Linked DNA regions of Homo sapiens. The protein of the gene in region 1 purifies or fractionates together with the protein of each later gene. This does not show direct contact. Each region holds a gene or a part of one and is shown in the gene's direction. Other genes may lie near its edges. The genes, in order: RET, ALK, ORM1, DHCR24, CHP1, LEMD3 and TMEM127.

Region 1 (4,292 bases):
CATGTAGTGGGGCCACGACGCCCGTCTGTGCAGCTTGGCCAGGGAATTGCACTGGCCCTGAGCACCTGTCTGCAGTGCTAGCCCTCTGCAATGACCCCCTCACTGAGGGGCCTTCATGATGTGTTCGTGAGGCAAATGGCTGGGCCAGGCCGGGCTGCAGTTCTGAAAGCTCCGGTAGAGCATGAGAGCCGAGCAGGTGGCCAGTAACCCAGCCTCCCCCACCCTTGCTAGTCCCATGCCTCCCTCTGGGTCCCTTGGTGACTCAGGCCCAGCCCAGCAGTTACCCTCCTGTGGTCCTGAGTAGGGCTTTGGGCTCAGGCAGAGCACCCAGTGACTTGCCCCCACCCACAAGTGGAGCTTGGGGACTCCACCTGAAGATGGCCTTGTGTGAGTTTATAGATTGGTGTGCCCCAAACTGCTCAAAGGTGGAAGCCAAAATCTCATTCTTCCAGGTCCAATGACAAGAGCTGATCACTTTTAAAACACAGGATTCTTGCCTCTAAAGTGTTCTACAGTCAGCAGAGGTGTGATGTGCCTCTCTTTTTTTGTGGGGGGAGGGGATAGGGTCTCACTCTGTCACCCAGGTTGGAGTGCAGTGGCGCAATCCTGGCTCACTGCAACCTCCACCTCCTGGGTTCAAGCGATTCCTGTGCCTCAGCCTCCTGAGTAGCTGGGATTACAGGCACGTGCTACTTCGCCTGGCTCATTTTTTTGTATTTTTTGGTAGGGACAGGGTTTCACCATGTTGGTCACACTGGTCTTGAATCCTGACCTCAAATGATCCACCCACCTCAGCCTCCCAAAGTGCTGGGATTACAGGCGAGAGCCACCACGCCTGGCCAACATGTGCATCTTAAATACTGTGGGCTGTGAATAAGCAATTGGACAACAGCTTTCCGATTATATAAGCTGACTGTAGGCTAGTTGGAAAAGGCAGAGAAAAGCATAAAGAAGAGACTGAATGTCATTGGACCACACCGCCCAGTGACCTCTGGCTGCCCTCTGGTGTGCTCCGTGGTGTGCACATGTATGCTTTTTATTGCCCTAAATGGGCTCATGCGATGCTGTTTTGTGATATGATTTTGTTCCCATTGCAAAGCGAGTTTTCCTTCACAGTTAAAATGTTTTTCTATAGCTTTTTTTCCTTCTAAGATTTTATGAAATTTTCCAAGCACATAGAAATGGCAAAAGAACTATACAAGGCACTCTGAGTCTGGTGGCCTGCATTCTCACCGCTTTAAGTGTGAGAATCTTAAGAATTATTAAGATTAATTCATGATATTAATTAATGTATCATTAATTCATTAATCATGAATTCATCTTAAGCCTCATGTGTCCCTTGTGCGTGTGGCTGCTCTGATGGGAGTGGCTTGGGCAAGGACTTCAGCTTCATGGAGTAGGGGCCAGGCAGGCAGGCAGCCCTTCCCCACCTTCATGCTACATCCATCTGAGCAGCCAGACCCAGGCTGACATCTGTGAGCATCTGTGCTTGAAGCCGACAGGGTCAGCAGGTGCTTGGTGGTGGGGGTGGATATCTGGGCCCCCCGGAGGGCTCTGTGAGGGCCAGGTGGAGCCACTCACTGGTCCTTTCACTCTCTGCAGATGGTCTTTTGGTGTCCTGCTGTGGGAGATCGTGACCCTAGGGGGAAACCCCTATCCTGGGATTCCTCCTGAGCGGCTCTTCAACCTTCTGAAGACCGGCCACCGGATGGAGAGGCCAGACAACTGCAGCGAGGAGATGTGAGCGGGGACTGGCTTTGGCCCAGCCTCACTTGGGAAGGGAGGGGACATCTGTGTGCATTCCCTCCCCATCCAGAGCAGCCCCAGGAGAAACCAGGAGAAGTGGGGGGTGGGGAGTGGGCAGGGCAGAGGTTAGAGAGCCATCCTTGGGTGTGGCAGTAGATGCTGGGGGTCCTACCCCACTGAGGGCTGGTGGGCTTCCTAGGGGGTCTTATAAAAATGAGTGAGAGCAGAGACTGGTGCAATGCAAGCTCAAGGGCTGAGAGCTGTCCCAGCAGGACACTTAGGGAGGAGAAGGTAATTCCAGATGGCCCAGGGGGCACGTGTTAAGGGGTGCCTGAGTGGAGGTGCAGAGCCAGGCAGGGGCAGCCTGGGCTGCAACCTGAGAGGTTGAAACCTTTACACTCTCAGGGGAGATGGTCTTAGAAACCAGGCTGAGAACAGATGAGAAAGGGCTGCCCAGAGGCAGAGATGCATGGTACATGCATTCCACAGAGTGTGCACACTGCTGGGGCGTGGAGGGGGCATGCTGGGCCGAGAAGCCAGGTACCACCTCCCTGGGCCCCCAGCTGGTGGCCAGCTGGAGCGCTGTGGTCTGCCTGGGCACCCAGGCAAGCAAGGACGGTGCAGGACAGACGTGTGATTGCCAAAGGTTCTTGTTTGTCTGTCTCCACACCTAAAAGCCCTCAATCAATTCATTCTTCTTGAGAGTTTTAAGGACTGGCACTTCTCACTTAGCTGCCAGAGCAAGCATAGTATCCAGTGAGCTGTTTACCAGTGTCTTTGCAAGGGAAGTAAAAATGAATCTCCCTTGGAGGGAAGGGAAGCTTGTAGGATTCTGGACCACAGCTCTGAGAGACCTGAGCACAGTGGCCCACGGGCTGGGATCCTGCAACAGGCCATGCCCCAGTCCCACGAGGCTCAGAGATGTCAGCGATGCAGAAATAGCTTTGGAGTTGGAGACAGAGCACACTGGGCCCAGGGTACAGGGCAGGGTGCGATGGCTGTGGTGGGCTGTCCTTCTGAGACCTGGCCCTGCTTGGATCATATTGGCCTGTCTGCTCTTCCCACCAGGTACCGCCTGATGCTGCAATGCTGGAAGCAGGAGCCGGACAAAAGGCCGGTGTTTGCGGACATCAGCAAAGACCTGGAGAAGATGATGGTTAAGAGGAGAGTGAGTGCCTGGGTCCAATTCCCACAAGCTGAAAGTGGCTTGGGGAGACTCCAGCCTCACCCCAGGGCAGTAGTTTTAGCCCTCAGAGTTCCCAGTGTGGGGCCACAGTGGGATTGTGCAGAGAGAGAGAGTCATGCTCTCCCCTGCATGCAGACAGCAGATTGAACCCTTCTCAGGCCAGGCCGCTTGGGCTTCTTTTCAAGTCATGAAGAAACCAAGATTCTTGACATTTAGGAAAAGCTCTCTACAGACAGGCATGGGAGGAAAATATTCCAAAGCCAAAAAGAAATAGTTTTCCATAATGGAAAATGAGAAAGTTGAGTTAAAGCAAGTGCCCAAAATTCAGATGCCCAGAGGGGGGTCCGGCTGGAGGAGGGCAGTGAGTAAGGAGCAGTGGAGACTGTGGCAAACAGCCAGCCCCCTCCAAAGGGTTCCTTGCTGGAGTACCTGTGGCCTGCAGAAAAAGGAGCCAGGAATGGGCTGGGTCTTCTGAATTTTATGAGGTTTATGTTGTCTCCCAGTTTTTATTGTTAACAATTCATTTAAATTTCCCAGAGCCGAACGCAGGCCAAACAAAGCATATCGGGGGGTGGCCAGAGTCAGCCTGTGTGCCTGGAAGTACAGTTTGTGAGGTCTACACATTTTCAACCAATATTCATCAGGCAGCTGCTAGGACCCATACTATGTCTCAGAGGCTGGGAATGCAGATAAACAAGACCAGCACAGCCCTGCCCTCACGGGGTTTACACACAGGCCTTGTCTTAACATTGGCACATTTACTGAGTTGTCACTTCTTCCGACTTGGATAGCGGGATGCAGGACCTAGGACCCCATAGGAAAACTTCACATCACTGTCTCGCTTGGATGAAAACTTCAAGTCCTGAGAATGCAGCGTTGTTCAAAACAGAAGCGATCACTGGTGCTGGCCTTCCTAGAACAGTGCTGAGAAACAGCCGGGAAAACGCTGGGCCCCTCTGTGCACATTCAAGCTGGGCATTGAAAGGAGCAGACGCCAGTGGCCCCTCGTGCTGGGGAGCCCGTGCCTGTAGCAGGGTCCTGTGCACCCTGACAGCGCTGTCAGATTTCAGAACTCAGCCCTGACGTGACGTTCTAGATGGCAGGGGTCCTTGGGGAAAGCTGGAAAACATCCTGCAGGCTGGGGCTGCGTCCTGGCATGTGGCTGCAGTGGGCTCCCCCAGAGCCCAAGGGTTTGTCAGCGGGCTGGTTCCGTGCTGCCCATCTCCGGGTTGGGCCAGGGGCAGCTAGATGAGGCGTCCCCCAAGGCTGCCCTCCAGGCCCTGGAGATAAGACGCTGAGGGAGCACATTTCTTTCCCCAGGGAGGTGACTTTCCAGGGGAAGAGACAGAATAGACAACAC
Region 2 (4,292 bases), on another chromosome or scaffold:
GCCATGCTGCCTGTCTGCCCACGTCCCCCCATCCTTAACCAAGCACAGCCCCTGCTTTTGAGCCAGAGAGTACTGGCAGGAAGCAGGGGTACAAGGCACGCTCTCATCTGGGTGTACTCAGCTGTGGCCAAACAGGTCTCCTAGGGCAAGCAGCCTCCTGGTTTTCCTAGTGTGGATCTGAAGCCCCCAGGCCCCACTGAAGATGGGCCCCGGGAGCTGGAGCTGGTGCGGGCGCCCTCCAAGGCGTCCTGCATCCTGCTTCTCTGGCCAGCATGGCTAATTGAACCTTGCCAGCATCCTCACGCAGGTTCCCTATCTCTTCCCGCAGGTGGTGGAGGTGGCTGGAATGATAACACTTCCTTGCTCTGGGCCGGAAAATCTTTGCAGGAGGGTGCCACCGGAGGACATTCCTGCCCCCAGGCCATGAAGAAGTGGGGGTGGGAGACAAGAGGGGGTTTCGGAGGGGGTGGAGGGGGGTGCTCCTCAGGTGGAGGAGGCGGAGGATATATAGGTAAAGATGATTCGTGTTCAAGGTGTCACTCCCTCCCTGCTTAGTCCTAGGCTCCTCACCTCCCTGCCCTGCCCTCCCCTGCCCTCCCCTGGCCTGCCCAAGTGTGGACTGTGATGTGACTGCACGCCTCCCTCTCGACCTGCCTGGACCAGCCAGAGGCAGGGTGCTGGCTTTCGAGCCAGCACCCTGCCTCCAGGCTTCCTCAGCGACAGCATCAAGATCCCATGTGATTCTTGATGTCCCCCAAAGTCGATGATAAAGAGGCTTTGGCTTGCCAGACTAGTCTCTGAGTCACCCATAAGGACTCCCCCAGCCTCCCTTGGATGGCCTGGCCAAGCCAGCTCCTGAAGGGGCTGGTTTGTGGTTTCATGGACTCCTTACTCCTGCTCCCTACCTCAGCCCACCAGCTTCCTGAAAGGCGCCGCTGTGCCTGCTGATGGGAGCTATTCCCGAGGGCAACTGCAGGCAGGCTTAGCCCAGCCCTTCAGCAAGCAGCTGCCCATTGACCCCAGCTGCCTCGTCTGGGCTTCAGAGCACAGTCAGCAGAGCCTTCTGAAGCTGAGAGGCTGGGAGACGATGGCTCCCCGCTCCCCACAGATTAGGACGAATGCATGCATGCTCTGTGGTGTTCGTGTCTGTGTTTTGCATTGACGCTGTGTGTAAGATGCTTGTGTTAACCACATGCTCTTCTTTTCCAAGCTGGGTGGGTGGGAGGAGCCCGAGGGGGGAGCCCAAAGATAGCCCAGCCCCAGATGAAAGGAGGGACGGGAGCCTCAGGGCACAGGGGCTCATTTCCCGCAATCCGCACAGCCCGCCACACCCCAACCCTGACCCAATGGGGCTGAAGAGCAACTCTTCAGTGCTACCATCCTGACCAGTCCTGGGAGAGGCACCATGGGCATATCCCAGCCTGGAAAGACTAGAACTTTTTGGACTCTTGCTCACATTAACCACTTCTTAGTGGGCCACCGGCAGAGTGGGAGCTGGCCTGGACCTGAGGGGAAATTAGCCACACACCCAGCATCTACTGAGCCAAATCCCACATGCAGCCTCTGTGCCCTGAGCCTCCCTTCCCTCCCCGCATCCCTGCCCCTGAGGTCCCCAGTGACCCCCTAACTTTGGCCAGAGCTGCATGCCCCACTGACGTGTGTGTGTGTTAAGATTTTGGCACCCACCCCCCATGTTAAACTCTGCTCTGGTTTGCTACTCAGGCGGCAATGCAGCCTCAAACAATGACCCCGAAATGGATGGGGAAGATGGGGTTTCCTTCATCAGTCCACTGGGCATCCTGTACACCCCAGCTTTAAAAGGTAGCTTCTCTGCCAGGCAGCAGAACAAACTTGCTTAGGTCAGTCCTCCCACCAAGCTAAAACCTCAGAGTCTCTGACCTGTATCCAGGATACAGAGGCACAATTATGGGTCCCTGGCAGGCAAGCTTCCTATGGCGCAGGTCACCACATTTTCCAGAAGTCAGGATGTGTGCTTTAATATGAATGCAGAGGCAGAATCCTAGGAAATGTAACAGTAATAGCCCAATACCTGCACCAGCCAACCTAAAGATCATGTGCGTGGGCTTCTCTCCACCACTGACTCAAAAGCAAACATCCATAGACACCCATGCCCGCTGCCTCCGCTGCACTCTCTATATGCACAGGAAGACTCTTCTACACAGTTGTGCTTCCAGTGGCTATGGGACCTAGGAACAGGGACCACCAGAGCACCCACAGTGACCACCTGGAGACATAGTACTGAGGCTGGGAGTGGGGAGGCAGGCTCGGCCCAAGACTGACCCTCCCTCCTTGTCACTAGTGATGGAAGGCCACGGGGAAGTGAATATTAAGCATTATCTAAACTGCAGTCACTGTGAGGTAGACGAATGTCACATGGACCCTGAAAGCCACAAGGTCATCTGCTTCTGTGACCACGGGACGGTGCTGGCTGAGGATGGCGTCTCCTGCATTGGTAAGGGGGCAGGGCCAGGGGAGGCAGAGGGGCCCATAGCCTGAGATTTGGCCCATGACCACAAATGGTTTCTGGGTTCCAGAACACCCTGGATTCGGTTTTGTAAACTTTCTGTCCCTCCCCTACCTGCCACAGCTCGAGTGCTCTGACCACTGTGTGAAAGGTGGGTCATGGCTCCTGAAGGAGTCTTAAAAATCCTCTACTATAGAATAAGCCCTCTACCACCCCCACCAAGGGGCCATCCTGCCTCCACTTAAACATGCCCAGTGACAGGGATCTTACTGCTCCTAAGGTTCTCTGTTCCCTTGGGCAGTTTCAGAGCTGGGGACCTGTTGCCTTAACCTTCCTCTCCTAGGTTTCCTTACAGCAGCAGCTGTGCATGTGCAGTGTTTGAAGACAGTGCTCCCATTCTCCTCCTCTTTTTTTTTTTTTTTTTTTTTTTTGAGGCGGAGTTTCACTGTTGTTGCCCAGGCTGGAATGCAATGGTGTGGTCTCGGCTCACTGCAACCTCCGCTTCCCAGGTTCAAACAATTCTTCTGCCTCAGCCTCCTGAGTAGCTGGGACTACAGGCGCCCACCACCATGCCAGGCTAATTTTCATATTTTCAGTAGAGACAGGGTTTCACCTTTTGGCCAGGCTGGTCTCAAACTCCTGACCTCAGGTGATTCACCCGCCTCGGCCTCCCAAAGTGCTGGGATTACAGGTGTGAGCCACCGCACCTGGCCCCATCCTCCTCCTTTAACTCTTCTTCAGACTAAATAACCCATTTGTTTGCAGCAGTTCATACAAGATGCAGTTTTGTGTCTCTTCCCCCGCCCCACCAGTGTCCCTCTTCTGCATGTGTTCCACTATCGATGTCCCTTTTGAAATGTAGTGTCCAGTACCAAGCACGATACCTCCGTGTGGTCTGGCCAGCAGAGGGCACAGGACCCCTCCCCACTGTGAGCCCAGTGCCTCAGGGCCACAAGGAAGTAACTTAGCCTCAGAGGGTGTTACTTACAGCGCACCCTGTTGTTTGGTCACCTGCGGCCCCCACATCTCTTCCAGATCCACTTTCGTTTCACCTTCCATCCTCACCCCATAGTTGTGCAGCTCATGTTTCAAACCAACATCCCGCCACTGATATTCATCCCTGTTAAATTTCCCTTCACCCAAAAGCTACTGCTAAAAGCCTGTCAAATCGGGATGAGTCTGGTCCTGCTCATGGTCCCCTGAAAAGAAAAGTGTGACAAGGTCTCCAGCGATGGGAAGGAGCAAGTAGTTTTTGTCTCAGTGGGGGAGGTTATTTCTGACTTGGGACCAACTCAAAGGAGACCTGGTGTGGTTGTCAATACCCCAGTGGGACCTGTCTTCCAGTGTCACCCACCCCGGAGCCACACCTGCCACTCTCGCTGATCCTCTCTGTGGTGACCTCTGCCCTCGTGGCCGCCCTGGTCCTGGCTTTCTCCGGCATCATGATTGGTGAGTGCACAGAGCCCCAGGGACTCCCAAGGGGGCAGGAAGGCAGGACTGAATAGTGTCTCAGGCTGTGCCACAGGTGCCAAGGTGTCACTTCGTTATGCTAGTCCCTGGAATTGGGTGGGGTGGTGATTAGGGCAGCCCAGGCCAAGCCAAAACGGAAGCTCCCAACCTTCCCCCCACCAGAGCAGCTGCAGTTCCCTGAGGAGCCCCTGATTCTGCACCTCAGCCCCGTGTGTATCCTCCTGGCTGATCAGGGGGTGGGGAGCTCCTTCAGTGTCCATCACGATGGTGAAAGCTCGCCCCCACCCCTAGACGTCACTTCTAGCTCCCACATGCTTCCACCGGCGCAGCTCCTGTT
Region 3 (5,071 bases), on another chromosome or scaffold:
CTTCCAGCCTCAGAGTCCAGAGTAGCTAGGCTTTCAGGTACATGGCACCAGACCTGGCTAATTTTTTTGTTTGTTTGTTTGTTTTCCTTGAGACGGAGTCTCACTCTGTCACCCAGGCTGGAGTGCAGTGGCGCCATCTCAGCTCACTGCAAGCTCTGCCTCCCAGGTTCACGCCATTCTCCCATCTCAGCCTCCCAAGTAGCTGGGACTACAGGCGCCTGCCACCACGCCCAGCTAATTTTGTTTTTGTATTTTTAGTAGAGATGGGGTTTCACCATGTTAGCCAGGATGGTCTCCATCTCTTGACCTCATGATCCGCCCGCCTCAGCCTCCCAAAGTGCTGGGATTACAGGCGTGAGCCACCGCGCCTGGCCGACCTGGCTAATTTTTAAATATTTTTGTGTAAAGATAGGGTCTCACTATGTTGCCCAGGCTAGTCTTGAACTCCAGGACTCAGGTGACTCTCCCATCTTGGGTCCATTAAGCTTTTAACTACAAACTACACTGAAATATGAAAGTTATTCAGAATGAAATGAATAAGAATGCAAAATTATAATCATACCGTAAGAATACTTTCTGAGTAATCCCAGCACTTTGGGAGGCCGAGACGGGTGAGTCACCTGAGGTCGGGAGTTCCAGACCAGCCTGGCCAACATGGAGAAACCCCATCTCTACTGAAAATAACAACAACAAAAAAAATTAGCTGGGCGTTGTGGAGGGCACCAGTAATCCCAGCGACTCAGGAGGCTGAGGCAGGAGAATCGCTTGAACCCAGGAGGCACAGGTTGCAGTGAGCCGAGATTGAGCCATTGCACTCCAGCCTGGGGGACGGGAGTGAAACTCCGTATCAAAAAAAAAAAAAAATGAATACTTTCTGAAAGTATTTATTCATACAAATAAAGACTTGACCCGTGAGGTAGGAACACAAATGGGCCACGGAATCACTCATTCCACAGAATATACCGAGTGCCCTTGAAGTGCTGGGCACTGCTCCAGGATTGGGGGCGTATTGGTGAAAGAGAAGCAAGCTGCCTGCTCAGATGGCAGGGAATGGGGGAAAACAGGGAGACAGTTTCCTGTTTGAGATGTTGGGAGATGCTTCGAGTAGTATATTTACTGGAAATAGACATTCAACTTGGATGTCCCTTTTTGGAAATGTGCCTGCGTCCAGGGCTGGGTTGGGGCCCCAATGAACTTTGGCTCTGACACAGCTGTTGCCACACTCAGTGGAACTGAATCTATGTTTGTCTTCCCCGGCATCCTTCACCCCAACTCTCCCCGCCACAACATACATCCCATGCCAGCCTGGGGACCCTCAAAGGTGGCTTCATCATTAGGTTTGTGGCTGGGTCCCACTGAAGTAAGTCTTGGCACTCAGAGGGATAGGAATTGAATGAAGACATGAGATTCCTCTGCGGGAGGCCTCTCTAGGAAATCTGTGGACTCACACGTTTACTAATGTTGCTGCAGCCCCGCACCCACCTTGGCCTTGGGCAGCCATACTCTAGGGCTTTTGTAACCTCTCCATGTGAGGAACTCAAATTAGACCTGGGTTTGGAGGCGGTGCTCCGAGCTGGCCTTTGGGGGAGGTTTTGTGCGAGGCATTTCCCAAGTGCTGGCAGGATTGTGTCACAGACACAGAGTAAACTTTTGCTGGGCTCCAAGTGACCGCCCATAGTTTATTATAAAGGTGACTGCACCCTGCAGCCACCAGCACTGCCTGGCTCCACGTGCCTCCTGGTCTCAGTATGGCGCTGTCCTGGGTTCTTACAGTCCTGAGCCTCCTACCTCTGCTGGAAGCCCAGATCCCATTGTGTGCCAACCTAGTACCGGTGCCCATCACCAACGCCACCCTGGACCGGGTGAGTGCCTGGGCTAGCCCTGTCCTGAGCACATGGGCAGCTGCCTCCCTTCTCTGGGCTTCCCTTTCCCTGCTGGCTGTGGTCGGACCCCCACTCCCGGCTCTGCCTTTTTCTCTTCTGGGTCCCCAGGGTGAAATTCTCACCAGCCCAGGGGACTCTGGAGGCACCCCCTGCCTCCAAACACAGAAGCCTCACTGCAGAGTCCTTCACGGAGGACGGTTCTGTGCTGGGCCTGGAGGGGCTGCCTGGGGGGCAATGACTGATCCTCAGGGTGAGCTCCTGCATGCGCACTGCCCACCAGGGGCCTCATCTCCCCATCTGCAAAATCAGGGAGAGATCTGCCTGAGTCTCCTCCCAGCTGACAGTCAAAGATTCAGCATCAAGCCCCCATCACCAGCTCCCACCTTCTCCCCAGATCACTGGCAAGTGGTTTTATATCGCATCGGCCTTTCGAAACGAGGAGTACAATAAGTCGGTTCAGGAGATCCAAGCAACCTTCTTTTACTTCACCCCCAACAAGACAGAGGACACGATCTTTCTCAGAGAGTACCAGACCCGGTGAGAGCCCCCATTCCAATGCACCCCCATCTCAGCTTCTGGCCAGAAGACCTGAGCAAGTCCCTCCTTCTTCCTGGCCTTGGCCTTCCCATGGGTGGAACCGGGAGGGCTGGCTTTAATCTCCACCAGACTCTTGCCCCAGGACTGTGATGGGCGATTGGCCACTTCTCAATAATCTTCCTGTTTTCCTTCCGCCTTCTGTTTGGCTTTAGACAGGACCAGTGCATCTATAACACCACCTACCTGAATGTCCAGCGGGAAAATGGGACCATCTCCAGATACGGTGAGGGCCAGCCCTCAGGCAGGAGGGTTCACTGTGGGAACAGGGCAGGCCAGCATAAGGTGGGGGCTGGATGTAGAGCCCTGGAGGCTTTGGGCACAGAGAAATAACCACTAACATTTTTGAGCTCTAACGATGTGCTCAGAAACAACTCTAAGAGGACACTGAGAGAATTAGAGGAGGAAAAAGAAGAACAGAGACCTCAAATAGTTTCCCCAAGGTCACACAGCTTATAATTAGAACTAGAATTGGAACTCCAGGCTGGCTTCAGATCTGCCTCTCTCTCATGCCCTCTTTAAGATCCTTTGCAAACCAATGGTAGAAGCCTGTATGTTGGAGAGGTGGTACCTTCAACTATGTCCCCCATCACCGCAGAGGTGGCACATGGCAGGGAGCTGATGGAGCTGAACTGACACCATTTAGCATCCCGAGCCTCCTCTCTGGGCCTCATTTTCCTCATCTGTAAAACGGAGAAAGGCCCTGACAGCCACGGTCTGTGTGAGGCTCCTGAGATCTCATGTACAGAAAGTGCTTGGCGTGGAGCTGGGCATGCAGCAGGGGCTGGGCACACGGTGGCCCAAAGGAGCCCTGGGCCTTCACTGATGGGCTGTGTGGCCACTGACACACCTAGGCCTCCTCACCTGTAAGACAGACACCATTGTGCCATCCCATGTTCTCACCCAGAGGCTCCTTTTCTCTTCCAGTGGGAGGCCAAGAGCATTTCGCTCACTTGCTGATCCTCAGGGACACCAAGACCTACATGCTTGCTTTTGACGTGAACGATGAGAAGAACTGGGGGCTGTCTGTCTATGGTAGGCATGCTTAGCAGCCCCAAACTCATGCCCCTCTCAGGCCTCACCCCCCATTCACCCACCCCTGGGCTGGCCCCTAGAACCCCAGCCCTCCCTGGCCTCCCGCCGGGCCCCACCATGTCCCCAGTCAGTCTCCTTGCTCCCCCTGCAGCTGACAAGCCAGAGACGACCAAGGAGCAACTGGGAGAGTTCTACGAAGCTCTCGACTGCTTGCGCATTCCCAAGTCAGATGTCGTGTACACCGATTGGAAAAAGGTAAACGCAAGGGATTGGACAGTGCCCACCTTGTCCATGGCCCAACTTGGGCAGCCCCAGAGGCCCAGAGCAGGAGAGCTGCCAGGCAAGGCTGCACAGCTAGGCAGATCTTCTGCTTTTAGGCACCTGCCTCACTGTAGGGACAGCTGAGCTCTACAGAGGCCCAGGGGTGGTGGATGAGAGCCCAGGAGGGAGAAGTCCCTGTGAAACCAGGGAGGACCTGAAAGCTAACAGGAGGGAACAGCGTGAGCCACGGGGTTGGGGGATTGGCAATTGGAGGGGACGTAATGCGGGGAGTTACCACCTACAGACGCGTCCCAAACCCCAGGCTTTCACCCCACCTCCACTCCCCACTCATTTTTAATACCCGTGCAGTGGGGAATTGATACTGTGGTTTTCAATGTCACCCACACTGCAGCACGGCCACAGTCACCATCCCGATTTTTGCTACAAATGAAAATTACTTTATAATGAGCTCCTTAACACTTTTCTTTAAACCTGTGTTTGGAAGACTTGCGTTGGTGTGGCCCTGTGCCCAATACCTGTGAAATCACAGCACCGATGAGCTGGTTCCAATTTTTAAAATATATACATGCAGTACTTCCATGACTATTCAAAGAAAAACAATTCCTTCCATTTGCCATCTGAGATGACCACCAGTGGTGTGAACTACCTCCTGCCCCCATCTGCAGTCCCAGGATCCTGGGACAGGGCTTATGAACACAACCACTGTAGTCAGCTCACCTGATCCACAGCCTGGCACCCCCACTGTCTGGCTAGGGAGCCTCGAATGGGTCCCAAGGCCACCCTGCTCCTCAGTTACATCATCTGCATAGTAGTGGTGGTTGTGAGGAATTCAGGAGCTGCAGCATAAGGGCTCGGCAGGTCCTAAGTGCACAGTAAATGCCAGTGATTCTTAAGAGTCTGAGCTCCCATTGTAGAGGCAAGTAAGCTGAGGTTCAGAGACAGAAAATGACTTGCCCAAGATCACCCAGCTGGGAAGTGACAGTGCCAGGGTTGGAGCCCTGGTTGAGCTGGTTCCACAGGCCAGAGCTCATTCTGCCCTCTCCCTGGAAGACCTCCCACCCTGTCCCCATGCCTCTGCTTCTCCCTCACCCCAATTCCCCGCTGCCTTCTAGGATAAGTGTGAGCCACTGGAGAAGCAGCACGAGAAGGAGAGGAAACAGGAGGAGGGGGAATCCTAGCAGGACACAGCCTTGGATCAGGACAGAGACTTGGGGGCCATCCTGCCCCTCCAACCCGACATGTGTACCTCAGCTTTTTCCCTCACTTGCATCAATAAA
Region 4 (3,500 bases), on another chromosome or scaffold:
CAACCCCACTGCTCCATTAGGGAAGGCAGCTGTGCCTCTGGCCAAGCAGAGGGGCAGAAGCCCAGCAGTCTGAGCTCTACTCCTGACTCTACCTCCACTGCTAAGCTACCTAACCCCCAAGCCCCAATTCCCTACCTGCAAAAGGGGGATAAGAATACCTGCACCATCTTCTTCACCAGGTTAACGGGGTTAAACAAGAGAAATCCTCCAAAAGCCTTTTCTGGGCTGCAGAATGAGCAGTTGGGTTTCTCTCACGCCTCGCGTTCCGTGTGCCTCCTGGCGTCCTCACCCACTTCTCTGCCTCTGCAGCTTCCAGATGCTGTATGCCGACTGCTACATGAACCGGGAGGAGTTCTGGGAGATGTTTGATGGCTCCTTGTACCACAAGCTGCGAGAGAAGCTGGGTTGCCAGGACGCCTTCCCCGAGGTGTACGACAAGATCTGCAAGGCCGCCAGGCACTGAGCTGGAGCCCGCCTGGAGAGACAGACACGTGTGAGTGGTCAGGCATCTTCCCTTCACTCAAGCTTGGCTGCTTTCCTAGATCCACACTTTCAAAGAGAAACCCCTCCAGAACTCCCACCCTGACAGCCCAACACCACCTTCCTCCTGGCTTCCAGGGGGCAGCCCAGTGGAATGGAAAGAATGTGGGATTTGGAGTCAGACAAGCCTGAGTCCAGTTCCCCGTTTAGAACTCATTAGCTGTGTGACTCTGGGTGAGTCCCTTAACCCCTCTGAGCCCGGGTCTCTTCATTAGTTGAAAGGGATAGTAATACCTACTTGCAGGTTGTTGTCATCTGAGTTGAGCACTGGTCACATTGAAGGTGCTGGGTAAGTGGTAGCTCTTGTTGCTTCCCGTTCAGCGTCACATCTGCAGTGGAGCCTGAAAAGGCTCCACATTAGGTCACCTGTGCACAGCCATGGCTGGAATGATGAAGGGGATACGCTGGAGTTGCCCTGCCATCGCCTCCATCAGCCAGACGAGGTCCTCACAGGAGAAGGACAGCTCTTCCCCACCCTGGGATCTCAGGAGGGCAGCCACGGAGTGGGGAGGCCCCAGATGCGCTGTGCCAAAGCCAGGTCCGAGGCCAAAGTTCTCCCTGCCATCCTTGGTGCCGTCCTGCCCCTTCCTCCTTCATGCCTGGGCCTGCAGGCCCACCCCAGCCACCACTGAGTCCACTCGGAGTGCCCTGTGTTCCTGGAGAAGGCATTCCAGGGTTGAATCTTGTCCCAGCCTCAGCCTGGGACACCTAGGTGGAGAGAGTGGTCTCCGCTCTGAATTGGATCCAGGGGACCTGGGCTCATTCTTCTTGGCTCACCAACCCTGCAGGCCTCATCTTTCCCAAAACCCACTTTGTCTTGGTGGGAGTGGGTCCGCGCTGCTCTGCAGCAGGGGCTGGGGAGTGGACAGCATCAGGTGGGAAAGTGGAGTCCACCCTCATGTTTCTGTAGGATTCTCACCGTGGGGCTGGAAGAAAAGAGCATCGACTTGATTTCTCCAACCACTCATCCCTCTTTTTCTTTCTTCCACCACTCCCCACCCCAGCTGTAGTTAATTTCAGTGCCTTACAAATCCTAAGCTCAGAGAAAGTTCCATTTCCGTTCCAGAGGGAAGGGAACCTCCCTAGGTCCTTCCCTGGCTTGTTATAACGCAAAGCTTGGTTGTTTATGCAACTCTATCTTAAGAACTGCCCAGCCTCAGCTGAAAACCCGAATCTGAGAAGGAATTGCGTCATGTAAGGGAAGCTGGAATTAAGGGAGCTGAGCCAGTCATGGTTGTGGCGTGTGAGTCAGGAGACCTAGGTTTCAGCCCCTCTCTACTGTCAGCGAGCTGTGCAACGTGGGCAAGTCATTGTCCTCTGAGCTGCAGTTTCCTCATCTGTCACATCGCTACAGACAAGACCTCCCTGGAACCCTTCTGATTGTCTTAGACACTGTGGTTGCAAAACCCACGGAAAGCCTCATTTGTGTGGAAAGTCAGAGGAAAAATGATCCAGTGGACACTTGGGGATTATCTGTCATTCAAGATCCTTCCTTCAACCCCAAGGTCAGCTCCCATCTCATTTCCAGAAAGGCTCATACCTGGCTTGCAGGGAAGCATCTGTCTTGTCATTCCAGGTGCCAGAATCCTCTCAGAGTCATTGAAGGGTGTTCACCCATCCCACCCAAGGCTTGGCACACTGCCAGTGTCTTAGCAGGGTCTTGTGAGGGCTGGGGGCATCCAGGCACTCAGAAGGCAAAGGAACCACCCTACCCATTTGGCCTCTGGAGGGGGCAGAAGAAAGAAATAAACCTCATCCTATATTTTACAAAGCATGTGAATTCTGGCATTAGCTCTCATAGGAGACCCATGTGCTTCCTTGCTCAGTGCAAAACTGATGATTCTACTTGCTGTAGATGAATGGTTAACACGAGCTAGTTAAACAGTGCCATTGTTTTGCCAGTGAAGCCTCCAACCCTAAGCCACTGGGACGGTGGCCAGAGATGCCAGCAGCCTCTGTCGCCCTTAGTCATATAACCAAAATCCAGACCTTATCCACAACCCGGGGCTTGGAAAGGAAGGTATTTTGGAATCACACCCTCCGGTTATGTTGCTCCAGTAAAATCTTGCCTGGAAAGAGGCAGTCTTCTTAGCATGGTGAGCTGAGTTCATGGCTTTTTTTTGTAGCCAGTCCTGTCCCTGGCCATCCATGTGATGGTTTTGGATGGAGTTAAACTTGATGCCAGTGGGCAGTGCATGTGGAAAGTATCAGAGTAAGGCTCTCCCCTCCAGAGCCCTGAGTTTCTTGGCTGCATGAAGGTTTTCTTTAGAATCAGAATTGTAGCCAGTTTCTTTGGCCAGAAGGATGAATACTTGGATATTACTGAAAGGGAGGGGTGGAGATGGGTGTGGCAGTGTATGGTGTGTGATTTTTATTTTCTTCTTTGGTCATGGGGGCCAAGGAGAAAGGCATGAATCTTCCCTGTCAGGCTCTTACAGCCACAGGCACTGTGTCTACTGTCTGGAAGACATGTCCCCATGGCTGTGGGGCCGCTGCTTCTGTTTAAATAAAAGTGGCCTGGAAGCTGGCGTTTGTCGTTTCTTGCTTGGGGGACCAAAATGTGGAGTCAGATCTGGGCTCGGGTGCAGGCTGTGCCATTCCCCAACTCAGTTGCTCTCACTGAACCCATGAGCCCATGGCCGAGGGCTAGAAGAACATGCAGGAACTGACAGGTTTATTTCTATCACTGTCAGAGTGTGATTGGAGTAAGTGTTGAAAGGATCCCTCTGTGTGCAGGGTGGCAAGCAGACCAGTGAGAAGGCCACCACTGCAGTCCAGGTGAGACGATGGTGGCTCTGGTTAGGGTGGAGGCCTGGCTTTGTCACTTGGTTGTGACCAATTAATTTTAGCAAGTTAATCCTGTTGAGACTGTTGTCCTCATCTACAAACTAGTGGACCCACTAGCTGTCCATTAAAATGCATTCCTCCATTCTTTGGACACATAGCTAGACTACCTTTCC
Region 5 (4,292 bases), on another chromosome or scaffold:
TTAATCCCTAAGAGACTAGTCCAGGGCTTGAAGTCTTCATGTCAGGGGGAATGTTAAGGTGTAGTCTATTCCGGGAAGCGCAGGCTTCAACTTTCCTTTATCTAGAGCTACCTTTAGCTGTACTTGTAATCTTTACATAGGTTATCAGTCTGTTCTTCTGCATTAAGATTTGGAATAAAGGCAAGGACAAAATAACTTTTTCTTTTCTTTTTTTTTGAGATGGAGTCTCGTTCTGTCACCAGGCTGGAGTGCAGTGGTGCAATCCCGCCTCCCGGGTTCAAGGGATTCTCCCGCCTCAGCCTCCTGAGTAGCTGGGACTATAGGCACGTGCCACCATGCCCGGCTAATTTTTGTATTTTTAGTAGAGATGGGGTTTCCCCATGTTGGCCAGGATGATCTTGATCTCTTGACCTCGTAATCCACCCACCTCCCAAAAGTGCTAGGATTACAGGCATGAGCCACCATGCCTGGCCCTCCAAAATAACTTTTTCTTACTCCCTTTTTGTTTTTATTCTTTCCTCTGCCACTTCTGCTTCGCACTTCTGTGAAATGCCTTCCTCCTCTTTGCACAATGCAGTGATGATAGAAAGATTTCAGCAACGTTAACAGGGTCTTTTTTTGTTTTTTTGGCGTGTGTTTTTTTTTTGAGACAGGGTCTCACTCTGTCACCCAGGTTGGAGTGGAGGGGTGTGATCATAGCTCACTACAACCTTGAACTCCTGGGCTGAAACAGTCCTTCTGCCTCTGCCTCCTAAATAGCTCAGCGTACAGGAATGCACCACGATGCCCAGCTAATGATTGATTGATTGATTATAGAGATGAAGTCTTGCTTTGTTGCCCAGGCTAGTTTTGAACTGGCCTTTCGTCAAGGGATCCTCCCACTTTAGCCTCCCAAAGTGCTAGGATTACAGGCATGAGCCACTGCCCTCAGCCAAACAGGGTCTTTTAAATAATCTTTTAACAATTTAAAATGATTATATACCCATACCAGTGGAGAAAAAATACAGCTTCATTCAAGACATGTTTATAGCAGGGCACGGTGGCTCATGCCTGTAATCCCAGCACTTTAGGGCGGCTGAGGCGGGTGGATCACGAGGTCGGGAGATCGAGATCATCCTGGCTAACACGGTGAAACCTGGTCTCTACTAAAAATACAAAAAAAAAAAAAAATTAGCCAGGCATGGTGGTGGCAGGTACCTGTAGTCGCAGCTACTCAGGAGGCTGAGGCAGGAGAATGGCCTGAACCTGGGAGGCAGAGTTTGCAGTGAGCCAAGATCGCGCCACTGCACTCCATCCTGGGTGACAAAGCAAGCCTCCATCTCAAAAAAAGAAAAAAGACACGTTTATATGCACGGCCTTCTCTGAGAGTAACTGTCAACTCCTGTTATTTCCTTTGGGTTACCAAGAATTGTGCAGGTTTTGGGCACCTATCTGACTAGCTTAGAGCCTTCTGGGGAAAATACTTCACTGGAAACATGATCTGCCTTCATTCACACCAGTTCCAGTACCTTTCTACACATGGATGGTGTAGCTCCTTTATAGGTAGATTGGGATTGTTCTGAGATTGCTTTATATTCTTTGTCACAGTGAATTTAGTACCTAAATTAAAGCCTTCTCTCCTTCTTTTTGTTAACAAAATTACTTGTAACCATATCGTTATGGTTCTAAAATTTGTTCTAAAATTTTGGAGATAAGTTTAGATATGACCATATTGATTAGTATTAAAAGTTGACATTTGGTTGTATGTTTCTCCACTGACTCCCATATAACCCAGTTCGTCCTGGAAGATAGTTTTTTTTTTTTTAATGTTTTGGCTACTTATTTACATTATTTATTTTTAACATATTAGTACATTATTTTTTGTTATCGTTTGTTTTGTTTTGTTTTGTTTTGAGGCGGAGTCTCACTCTGTCGCCCAGGCTGGAGTGCAGTGGTGAGATTTCAGCTCACTGCAACCTCCATCTCCCAGGATCAAGCGATTCTCCTGCCTCAGCCTCCCAAGTAGCTGGGATTATACCACCACACCTGGCTAATTTTTGTATTTTTAGTAGAGACAGGGTTTTACCATGTTGGCCAGGCTGGTCTTGAACTCTTGGCCACAGGTGATCTGCCCGCCCTCAGCCCCCCAAAGTGCTGGTATTGCAGGCTTGAGCCACCAGGCCTTGCCACATTTTGAATTTAAGCAGCCATAAACTGGTCTTAACATACTATAGGAGGTTTCAGTGCCCAGTTATTTTATTTCTTTTTTATTTATTTATTTTTTCGAGACAGAGTCTCCTCTCTGTCACCCAGGCTGGAGTGCAGTGGCGCAATCTCAGCTCACTGCAAGCTCCGCCTCCCAGGTTCAAACCATTCTCCTGCCTCAGCCTCCCGAGTAGCTGGGACTACAGGTGCCTGCCACCACGCCCGTCTAATTTTTTGTATTTGTAGTAGAGACAGGGTTTCACCGTGTTAGCCAGGATGGTCTCAATCTCCTGACCTCGTGATCCGCCCGCCTCGGCCTCCCAAAGTGCTGGGATTACAGCTGGGATTACAGGTGTGAGCCACCACGCCCAGCCTCAGTGCCCAGTTATTTTAGATGATATAGATTAGAAAGATGTTTAATGGCTCATTTGTGGATTTTTTTGGTTTAAAATAATTTTATTTTTTATTTTTATTTTTATTTTGTTCCCCAGCCTGGTCTTGAACTCCTGGCCTCAAATCATTGTCCTGCTTCTGCCTCTGGAAGTGCTGGGATTATAGGCGCCAGCCATCATGCCTGGCTCTCATTTGTTCATTGAAGGGGTCGGATTAGATAACATTTCTACCAATTTTAAAATTATATAAATTGGATAAAGAAGGACTCCAAAGCAATATAGAAAAAGTATGAATTACTAAATGAAAAGCAAGCTATTACAACTTTGTAAAGTACACGAGTAACTGATATTAGATGATATATGAAGAGCTGGGCGCGGTGGCTCATGCCTGTAATCCCAGCACTTTGGGAGGCCGAGGTGAGTGGATCACCCGAGGTTGGGAGTTTAAGACCAGCCTGACCAACATGGAGAAACCCTGTCTCTACTAAAAATACAAAATTAGCTGGGTGTGGTGGCGCATGCCTATAATTCCAGCTACTTGGGAGGCTGAGGCTGGAGAATCACGGGAACCCAGAAGGCGGAGGTTGTGGTGAGCCAAGATTGTGCCATTGCGCTCCAGCCTGGGCAAGAAGAGCGAAACTCTATCTCAAAAAAAAAAAAAAAAAAAAGATCTATGAAGAAATGAAAATGGCAGTGTTGGGATTGTGAACAAATTTTGTTTTTTTCAAAAAATCTTTTGGGAAACTTAGTAATTCTTTTTTTTTTTGAAACAGAGTCTTGTTCTGTCACCAGTCTGGAGTGCAGTGACGTGATCTCCGCTCACTGCAACCTTCGCCTCCCTGGTTCAAGTGATTCTCCTGCCTCAGCTTCCCAAGTAGCTGGGACTAGAGGCAGACGCCACCACACCCAGCAGATTTTTGTATTTTTAGTAGAGACGAGGTTTCGCCATGTTGGCCAGGATGGTCTCGATCTCTTTTCCTCAGCATCCGCCCGCCTTGGCCTCCCAAAGTGCTGAGATTACAGGCGTGAGCCACTGCGCCCAGCCTGAAATTTAGTAATTCTTTAACTGACTTATTTTTGTTAAACTAAAGGGAACTTTAGTACAAGAATAGCCTTTGAGGCCTGAGGCCAGAACTGGGATAGACTGGTCAAGTTCTTAAAGAAAACGGTTGTAACTGGCAAAGTCAGGAGGGAAATGGAGAGTAATTAGTGCAGCAGTAATACTTGTGCCTTCAGGCTCAGGATGTAAGCATGATGCTGATAATAGCTAATCTGGAGTGCTTGCCATGTGCCTGGCACTTTGCCAAGCATTTTCCTTTCATTGACTGGTGAGTTCGCTCTACAATCCCATTCACTTACCTCTCTCTGGTAAGCCATGGTGCTAGCAATGGAATCAGAATCTGTCTGCCTAACCCTCACAAGTGTGTACACTTTACAGTGAGCCATTTATACCTGTCCGGCTGGCAAAACAGTCCACAACTGTCTCCTTAGTGGCTGGATCCCTGCTGGCTCTGCCCCGATGGAAATGCTTTTGCCTTCTCTGCTCAGTGATCACTTTAGAGCACTAGGACAGAACAGAGCCCAGCTTCGAGGGTGAAACCTGATGCTGAAGAATTCACAGCCACACATAGTGTGTCCTCTTATCCCAGCTCTGGGCCACTCACTACCTGCTTGTCCCTGTTCACTTTGTCCCATTGTTCCCAACACTACAAGTAC
Region 6 (4,292 bases), on another chromosome or scaffold:
CTATATTAATCTTGCTTTGTAGATTTTCATTTATATACAAAGTGATTTCTAGTAGTATATTTATAACAATTGAAACTAATTGCCTGAAATTATTTTGTGTAACTTTATTGCATAATATTTTAAAACAATATTAAAGCAAATAAAAATCACTTGTATCCTCATTCTTGTGCTACTCATATGAGTACATATATTTTATAATTATAAATACAGTTGGCCCTACGTATACATGGGTTTTGCATCCATGGATTTAACCAACCGTGGATCAAAAATCTTAGTGGCAATAAAAAGAAAAAAAGTACAATGGAAAAAATACAGATTTTAAAAATACAGCTATCTATATTCATTTATATTAGGTGTTATAAGTAATCTAGAAATGATTTAAAGTATAAAGAATGATGTGCATAGGTTATATGCAAATACTATGCAATTTTATATCAGGGACTTGAACATCTGTGGATTTTGGTATCCATGGGGCATCCTGGAACCAATCCTCTGTGAATACTGAGGTATGACTGTATATATAAATTAAATGTTGTAGTTTTATTTTTTTAAGCAGATAGCTGTTTAGCTCTCATCATGATTATTTCTAAGTTCATAATATCCATTGAAATGATCTCATATATAAACCTTTTTTCAATCATTAAATACATTGTCTGCAATTTTTTTGATGTTTGTAAATGCTATAATAAACACCCAAGCTTAAAAAAACAGATGGCCTATAGTTATCTTCACCATCTTAAAAATCCTAATAGTAGTTTCATGTAATGATGCCTAACAAGATTAGTTCTGCTTTATAAAACTTTTTATTACATTTGCAAATTTGATACATTAGAATAACTTACCAGTTTTATATTAGGAAGTAAACTATACTGATCAAATGAAAACCTTATAATTTCCAATGCTGTTGAAGAATCTGTTGATAAAATACAATAGGACACTTCTTAGAAAAATCTTTTTTTTAGAGAGAATTTGAAATGACTTTTTATTTCTGTTTTTAGAAATTCATTTTTTCCTCTACGAGCCAGGCACAGTGGCTCATGCCTGTAATCCTAGCACTTTGGGAGGCCAAGGCAGGCGGATCACTTGAGGCCAGCAGTTCGACACCAGCCTGGCCAACATGGCGAAACCCCATCTCTACTACTACTAAAAATACAGTGATTAGCTGGGTGTGGTGGCACACGCCTGTAGTATCACAGTTACTTGGGAGGCTGAGGCACAAGACTGTGCTTGAGCCCTGGAGATGGAGGTTGCAGTGAGGCGAGTTCGCACCACTGCACTCCAGCCTGGGTGACAGAGCAAGACTCTGTCTCAAAAAAAAAAAAAATTCATTTTTTGCTCAAAAGGGACATAAAGACATACTAATAATACAAGCTCCATGAACACAGGGAATTTTTCACTGTGTTGTTTATGCTGCACCTCTAGTTTCTAAAATAGTACTTGGCACATGGTAAAGGTGTTTATAACAGTATTATATTTGATAAATTTTTAAAAATTGGACATATTCTAAATGTTCATTAATAAGGTGTTGATTAAAAGTATAGAATAATCATACAATGGAATACTATTTTGTTGAAAAAAATAGGGTTTTTTCCATGTAAACTGACATTGACACAATATTTTGTTCCATGAAGAAAACAAGTAGAACAGTAGTATGTGTAATATGATACCACATTTATTTTTACTATTTTAATTTAAAAATACTCTACCCACACATAGCAGTTCTTAAGCTTTTTGGTTCCCTATAATTACTGAGGACTCTGGCTTTTGTTTGTGGGAGATATACATTTATATGTTTTTGTTTCTATTAGAAAGATATATTTACTTTCTAATGGTAAATATGTATTACAAATACATGTTTATATTAAAAATTAAAACTGAAAAAAATTTATGTATTTAGAATAAGAAAAATGAATCTATTATATGTTAACGTAATGTATTTTTATGAAAAATAACTTTTCCAGAATGAAAACATTCAATGAGAACAGTGGCATTGTTATATATTTTATAAATCTCTTAAATGTGTAGCTTAATAAAAGGTGACTGGATTCTTATCTGCTTCTTTATTCAATCTGTCATGATGTTTTAGTTGAAGTATGTCATGAAAATCCAGCCTCACATTGATATGTAGTCAAAACATTGGAAAGTATTTTAGTTGCCTTTTCAGGTAATTGTAGATAGATATTTTCTTTGATACCATACCAAACCTCTATAAGTAGTAGTTTCTTAAATGTTAGTTGCAATGTGGAATGTCAGACTGTGCCAGTGAACTTTTTGTACTCTTGTCTCATAAAATCCTTTTATTTTGTACTTTGAATGGATCTTTTACCTATGCGTGATTGGTTTTTATAAAAATCAGAATTTTTCAAATGCATTGGTCATTTTCAGATGCATTGGTCACATTTCATTATTCCATATCAAAAAACTGCATTTGTTAATGTCACACAAATCTCATTGGAAAGGTCTTCAAGTATTGTGAAGTTGTCCAGGTCACAAAGATGAATGCTAGTTTTTCAAAATTCTACTTTTTACTTGAATGCTCAAATCTTATAATTGGTAACCCGGTCAGTTTTTCTTTAGTTGATAGGCTTACTGCTTTTATGTGTTGAGAATACTTGTCTGTGAAACATCCAAATCTGGAAGAGTTTGCCATTTATTTGTTCATCTATAAATAATATTGCATTTTTAAAAGTGGTAAATTCACTCTTATGATGGCACTGATAAACTAATGATAAAAAAAGAACTTCCAAGCCAGGCGCAGTGGCTCATGACTGTAATCCCAGCACTTTGGGAGTCCAAGGCTGGCGGATCACTTGAGGTCAGGAGTTTAAGTCCAGCCTGGCCAGCATGGTGAAACCTCGTCTCTCTAAAAGTACGAAAAAAGAAAATTAGCTGGGCCTGGTAGCTGATGCTTGTAATCCCAACTACTTGGGAGGCTGAGGCAGGAGAATTGCTTGAACCCAGGAGGCGGGGGCTGCAGTGAGCCAAAATTGTCCCACTGCACTCCAGCCTGAGTGAGAGAGACTCAGTTCCCAAATATGTAAAATATAAAAAAGCAAAATATTAACACTGATTATATTGGAGTAGTGGGAAAATGCTAACTTTTTTTTTCTTTTTTCTCATTCTTTTTAAAATTTTCTGTAATGAATATTTTATGTTATGTAGTTAAAATAAAAATGTTATATAGAGTGTGTTATAAAGGATACTTTACAGAGAGTCGAATGTAGATTAAGAATAGTTATTTTTCTCTATTTTTCTTGTTAGGATTTAGGTCCTGAATATGAAGGTATATTTAACACTTCATTGCAGTGGATCTTAGAAAATGGAAAAGATGTTGGAATAAGGTAAAGGATCTGATTTCCACTTTGACCATTCTGTACTGGGAGAAATGGTTTTTGACTTTAAATTCTACCTTACTTATTTTTAAATAGGTGTGTTGGTTTTGGCCCTGAGGAAGAATTGACAAATATAACTGATGTGCAGTTTTTACAGTCCACAAGACCACTGATGTCTTTTTGGTGTCGTTTTCGACGTGCTTTTGTTACTGTAACTCACAGATTATTGTTGTTATGCTTAGGTAAGTTGTAAAGATAAGAAATGAGATAAATTGCAGCCTGAATTTTTGTGTGTATTTCACTAAATGCCAGAGTTGAGAATTCATTTTTGTGATGGTTGCCACATAAGTCACAGCTAGATGTCTTCACTAAATATAATAAAAATAATGTCAGAATCATTCTAAAGGCTTAGAAAGCAGTAATATAAGGAGAGGTAGAAATAAAACTTTGTTATAAGACTGTCACAGAAAAACAAGTGTGGTCAGTATATACATAGAAATCTACTTTAGAAAGTAGAATTGAAAAATACAAAAATTGAGCTTATTTTTAAATAATAAAGTGTTATAAAGTTTATTAAAATTTAGTTTTTAAAATGTAATTTACCTACATTTAAAATTTTTATCATTTTTTAATTGATAATAGGGATTTAGGTGAGAGTTGTTTTTTCATTCTTTCTTTCTTCTTTAAAAATAATTCATTTTGGCCAGCTTTAGTGGCTCACACCTGTAATCCCAGCACTTTGGGAGGCAGGAGGATTGCTTGCACTCAGGAGTTTAAGACCAGCCTGGGAAGCATAGACCCTACCTCTACAAAAAAATTTTTAAAATTAGACAGGCATAGTGGCACGTGCCTGTAGTCCCAGCTACTTGGGAAGCTGAGGTAGGAGGATTTCTTGAGCCCAGGAGTTGGAGGCTGCAGTTAGCCATGATTGCACTACTGCCCTCCAGCCTGGATGACAGA
Region 7 (4,292 bases), on another chromosome or scaffold:
TTCTTTTGTTCTCGTAGAGTTCAGGGAGGGAGCTAAACTAAATGTGATATAGTCTACCAACTTTCCTAATCTATGTAATACTTTCTTGTAGCTGCACATTTCTCTAAACTGCCGCAACTTCCTTCTTCCTCTTTTCTTTATTTTACTTTTTTTTAAAATTGTGGTAAAATATACATAACATAAAACTTAGCATTTTAACTTTTTTTTTTTTTTTTTTTGAGACAGAGTTTCTCTCTTGTTGCCCATGCTGGAGTGTGAAGGCGCAATCTCGGCTCACCGCAACCTCCATCTCCCAGGTTCAAGCAATTCTCCTGCCTCAGCCTCCCAAGTAGCTGGGATCACAGGCATGCACCACCACGCCCGGCTAATTTTGTATTTTTAGTAGAGACAGGGTTTCCCCATGTTGGTCAGGCTTGTCTCAAACTCCTGACCTCAGGTGTTTTGCCCGCCTTGGCCTCCCAAAGTGTGGGATTACAGGTGTGAGCCACCGTGCCCTGCCAACATTTTTTTTTTTTTTTTTGAGACAGAGTCTCACTCTGTCACCAGGCTGGAGTGCAGGGGTGCAATCTCGGCTCACTGCAACCTCCACCTTCCGGGTTCAAGCAATTCTTCTGCCTCAGCCTCCAGAGTAGCTGGGACTACAGGCGCATGCGATCACACCCAGCTAATTTTTGTATTTTTGGTAGAGACGGGGTTTCACCATGTTGGCCAAGATGGTCTCGATCTTCTGACCTCGTGATCTGCCCGCCTCGGCCTCCCAAAGAGCTGGGATTACAGGCGTGAGCTACCATGCCTGGCCAATATTTTGTTTTTTTAAGAGACAGGGTCTCTCTCGGTCATCCAGGCTGGAGTGCAGTGGTGTGATTATAGCTTACAGTAACTCCTGGGCGCAAGCAGTCCTCTTGCCTCAGCCTCCTAAGGAGCTAAGACTATAGGCATGCGCCACCATGCCCAGCTAATTTTTTTTTTTTCCTCAAAGAGACGGGGTCTCACTATGTTGCCCAGGCTGATCTCAGACTCTTGGCCTCGAGCAATCCTCCTGCCTCAGCCACCCAAAGTATTAATAACCATTTTAAGTGTTGAGTTCATTGATATTAAGCACATGCATCATGACTATCTGTTTCCAAAACTATCATCATTTCAAACTGAACCTTTGTGCACATTAAATGATAACTTCCTGTTCTCCCCTCTCCCTACCTGCTGGCAACCACCATTATATTTTCTGTCTCTATAAACTGATTATTCTAGGTATCTCATATGAGTGGAATTATAAAATATTTGTCCTACATTTGGTTGATTTCACTTAGCATAGTATCTTCAAGTTCAACTTCTTTTTGGAACAAAAAGGGAATGAATGAGTGAGTAAATGGAGAATCAGCATTAATTGACCTGTATGGTCTTAGCCTCTCTGGCTGTCTCAGCTCCAAAGTCAGGCTTTTCCTGCCAGCTCAAAATATCCTTTAGCAGAATGCATTAACATGTCAGGTTAACTGTCAGTGTCTTTAAAAATGGTTAGAAGGGCATGGCATACACAGTGAAGTAGAATCCTGCACTTAGGCTAGTCCTGTTGGAAAGAGAAGGACTTGAGGTACAGGAGAGCAGTGGCCTCTGCTAATGTGGAATTTGCTCCAGCTACCCTGCAGACCACCCAGGAGCAGGGGCTAAGACAGCGTCCTCCAGAACTGCCCTGGCTCCCAGGACTGTGGTGGAGGGGAATCAAACTCCTTCTAGGTGGGGACTTCCTGCACCAAGTGTTACTTGGGGCCGTGAAAATTTGGTTCTCCCTCTACAGATTTCTGCATGAATCCCCAGACAGTGCTGCTCCTGCGGGTCATCGCCGCCTTCTGTTTCCTGGGCATCCTGTGTAGTCTCTCCGCTTTCCTTCTGGATGTCTTTGGGCCGAAGCATCCTGCTCTGAAGATCACTCGTCGCTATGCCTTCGCCCATATCCTAACGGGTAAGCCGTGAGCCTGCTCACAGTGGGAGAGGAACTGCTACAGGGTGGGGGCATCCTGTCTGAGTTGCCGGTGGGGGCTCTGGTTTCTCTGAGCAGGCACCCTTCCAGGAGCTCATGTGCCAAGCTCCAGTCTTTCCCAGAGTGTCAGGGTGTCAGCAGCCTGCTCCAGTCTAGCTGCTAACTTGCCAGGATCACAAACCCACTCAGCCCAGCTGTAGAGGGGAAATGTTGCTAGAAATTCCACAAGGAAGCTCACAGCTCTCTAAAATGGCATTTGAAGCTCAGACCTGACATGAGTGAAGAAGGAACCAGGCAGTCTCCCGTGTCTCCCCTGGAGCTCCTGGTCAGATTCTCTCCTCTCCACCTTCCTGCTTCCCTACAGACCCGCCTTTTCTTGTATGTAGCTGCTGTCCTCCCTCGTGCCTGCACTGCTGTGCTGGTTTGAATTGTGGTGTGCCTACTCCAGCTCCCAAGCTGCATGACCCTATTTGCTCCTTAAGACAGATGGAATCTGACTGGCCTAGATCAGGTCAGACTGCTGTCCCCAACCTCAGGCCAGGAATCCCATGGTCAAGAGAGCTCCTCCTTGCAGAGTCTGGGGCCAGGCAGGTTCTCTGAGAATGGGGTTTGGGTAGAGAGGCTGTGATTGGGTCCTCAAGCATCCTAGCTGTGGAGTGCTCACTAATTCCCCTTCTGTGCTGTCCCTCTGTCTCCTAGTTCTGCAGTGTGCCACCGTCATTGGCTTTTCTTATTGGGCTTCTGAACTCATCTTGGCCCAGCAGCAGCAGCATAAGAAGTACCATGGATCCCAGGTCTATGTCACCTTCGCCGTTAGCTTCTACCTGGTGGCAGGAGCTGGTGGAGCCTCAATCCTGGCCACGGCAGCCAACCTCCTGCGCCACTACCCCACAGAGGAAGAGGAGCAGGCGCTGGAGCTGCTCTCAGAGATGGAAGAGAACGAGCCCTACCCGGCGGAATATGAGGTCATCAACCAGTTCCAGCCACCCCCTGCTTACACACCCTAATGCCAGCCCTGGGCTCTCTTCCTCGGCAGCCCCTCCCTCAACTCTGCAGCTCCTCTCGCACCCAGAGGAGCTCCTTTCCCCAGCAGGCCTCACTGGTAGGATCCTGACCATCTTCTCCAAACCTTCCCCAGGAGAGACTCTGCCTTTAGGGTCATCCAAGTATCCCTGCTCTCAGAACCGGAGGTCCACTGGTTTTCTATAATGTACTCTTTCCCTCCTGCCACATCCTGCCCCCTTCACATTCACGAGTCATTACCAGCCAGGGAAGGTCATCCAAGTTTCCTCCAGCATGGGCGATATCTTTGGGACCGAGACTTTCCTTGGAGAGCTGCTGAGAGCGGACAGTCCCAAAAACAAGTGTCAAAGGGCCCAAGGGAAAGGGGACTGTGCCCTGGAGGCTCACTTCACAGGGATCAGTGTTTGCTCCACAGCTGTAGCTCTGGGCTGACGCCCCCCAGACCCCTTCCTTCTCGGAGTGACCCGCCCCCAGGCCACCTGCTCCGGGGAGTTCTGTGCACTTTACTCTTTGGACTTCTCCTCACGTGTGCCCTGGTTTTATGGGGAGAGGGAATCGCTGTTGGGAAGGCAGAGCAGTTGCAACCCTCTCTGCCCTTGCTTCATGTGGCTGGAGCCCAGGCAAGGAGAGCAGGAGCCAGCGTGAGACTGAGGCCCCCTGGTGCCTATCAAGGACCAGAGTGAAGGGGACTACATCTCCCAGCCCTTCACCTTTTAAATATGAGTGGTTTTAAAAGGAAAAAAATGAAACCAGGCAACAGCAACAATATTCTGTTTTTAAAATAGGGACAAGACTGTTGTCACTTTTTAGACATGTATCCCATTCCTTTTGGCTCTGCAATATTTGGGGCTGTAGCTCCTTCCAAGCCCATGGTAGTCCCTCCCCGAGTCTCTCCCAGTAGAATGCAGCCTCCCTTCCCTGGCCCCTTCCCTCTCAGTGACGGTGACTCCCTGGGGCCTTCTCGTGGAACCCAGAGGGGCTGAGGACTGTGGCCTGGCTGGCGGGCCAGCGTGGTGCTCCTCAGGACTGCAGCACTGAGATGGAACCTGGCCTCAGTTTAGGAACAGGGGCCACAACAGGGCAGGAACCCACCACCCTCCACATAGGAATACAACCAGTGGGGCCACATCATGTGAGGCATCAGACCCACACTGTCAGCCCAGCAGGCCGGGCTGTGTCCTTCAGACCCAGTGCTGCCCTAGACTCTGACTCGGGACTCCAGCTTGCCACGTGCCCTCTCCCCTCTTGAATGTACTCTGGTCTTGCAGTGTGCTGCTGGGACTTTCTTGCTCAG

The links.
Region 2: the proteins of RET (region 1) and ALK purify together in Homo sapiens (affinity purification with western blotting; one study listed by BioGRID and IntAct). This does not show direct contact.
Region 3: the proteins of RET (region 1) and ORM1 purify together in Homo sapiens (affinity purification with mass spectrometry; one large-scale study listed by BioGRID and IntAct). This does not show direct contact.
Region 4: the proteins of RET (region 1) and DHCR24 purify together in Homo sapiens (affinity purification with mass spectrometry, with the first as the bait; one large-scale study listed by BioGRID). This does not show direct contact.
Region 5: the proteins of RET (region 1) and CHP1 purify together in Homo sapiens (affinity purification with mass spectrometry, with the first as the bait; one large-scale study listed by BioGRID). This does not show direct contact.
Region 6: the proteins of RET (region 1) and LEMD3 purify together in Homo sapiens (affinity purification with mass spectrometry; one large-scale study listed by BioGRID and IntAct). This does not show direct contact.
Region 7: the proteins of RET (region 1) and TMEM127 purify together in Homo sapiens (affinity purification with western blotting; one study listed by BioGRID). This does not show direct contact.

Annotation. Positions count from the first base shown.
Region 1 is NC_000010.11:43,122,069-43,126,360, forward strand, and holds part of RET (proto-oncogene tyrosine-protein kinase receptor Ret isoform a precursor), read left to right. Parts: intron 1-1,602; coding exon 1,603-1,740; intron 1,741-2,814; coding exon 2,815-2,914; intron 2,915-4,292. UniProt on the Homo sapiens protein: Receptor tyrosine-protein kinase involved in numerous cellular mechanisms including cell proliferation, neuronal navigation, cell migration, and cell differentiation in response to glia cell line-derived growth family factors (GDNF, NRTN, ARTN, PSPN and GDF15).
Region 2 is NC_000002.12:29,225,103-29,229,394, reverse strand, and holds part of ALK (ALK tyrosine kinase receptor isoform 1 precursor), read left to right. Parts: intron 1-328; coding exon 329-511; intron 512-1,722; coding exon 1,723-1,821; intron 1,822-2,320; coding exon 2,321-2,473; intron 2,474-3,829; coding exon 3,830-3,934; intron 3,935-4,292. UniProt on the Homo sapiens protein: Neuronal receptor tyrosine kinase that is essentially and transiently expressed in specific regions of the central and peripheral nervous systems and plays an important role in the genesis and differentiation of the nervous system.
Region 3 is NC_000009.12:114,321,386-114,326,456, forward strand, and holds the start of ORM1 (alpha-1-acid glycoprotein 1 precursor), read left to right. Parts: upstream 1-1,712; 5' UTR 1,713-1,748; coding exon 1,749-1,862; intron 1,863-2,277; coding exon 2,278-2,420; intron 2,421-2,632; coding exon 2,633-2,703; intron 2,704-3,404; coding exon 3,405-3,512; intron 3,513-3,663; coding exon 3,664-3,767; intron 3,768-4,906; coding exon 4,907-4,972; 3' UTR 4,973-5,071. UniProt on the Homo sapiens protein: Functions as a transport protein in the blood stream. Binds various ligands in the interior of its beta-barrel domain. Also binds synthetic drugs and influences their distribution and availability in the body.
Region 4 is NC_000001.11:54,849,196-54,852,695, reverse strand, and holds the end of DHCR24 (delta(24)-sterol reductase precursor), read left to right. Parts: intron 1-309; coding exon 310-463; 3' UTR 464-3,069; downstream 3,070-3,500. UniProt on the Homo sapiens protein: Catalyzes the reduction of the delta-24 double bond of sterol intermediates during cholesterol biosynthesis.
Region 5 is NC_000015.10:41,237,530-41,241,821, forward strand, and holds part of CHP1 (calcineurin B homologous protein 1), read left to right. Parts: intron 1-4,292. UniProt on the Homo sapiens protein: Calcium-binding protein involved in different processes such as regulation of vesicular trafficking, plasma membrane Na(+)/H(+) exchanger and gene transcription. Involved in the constitutive exocytic membrane traffic.
Region 6 is NC_000012.12:65,235,241-65,239,532, forward strand, and holds part of LEMD3 (inner nuclear membrane protein Man1), read left to right. Parts: intron 1-3,261; coding exon 3,262-3,341; intron 3,342-3,428; coding exon 3,429-3,574; intron 3,575-4,292.
Region 7 is NC_000002.12:96,252,498-96,256,789, reverse strand, and holds part of TMEM127 (transmembrane protein 127), read left to right. Parts: intron 1-1,792; coding exon 1,793-1,957; intron 1,958-2,674; coding exon 2,675-2,982; 3' UTR 2,983-4,292. UniProt on the Homo sapiens protein: Controls cell proliferation acting as a negative regulator of TOR signaling pathway mediated by mTORC1. May act as a tumor suppressor.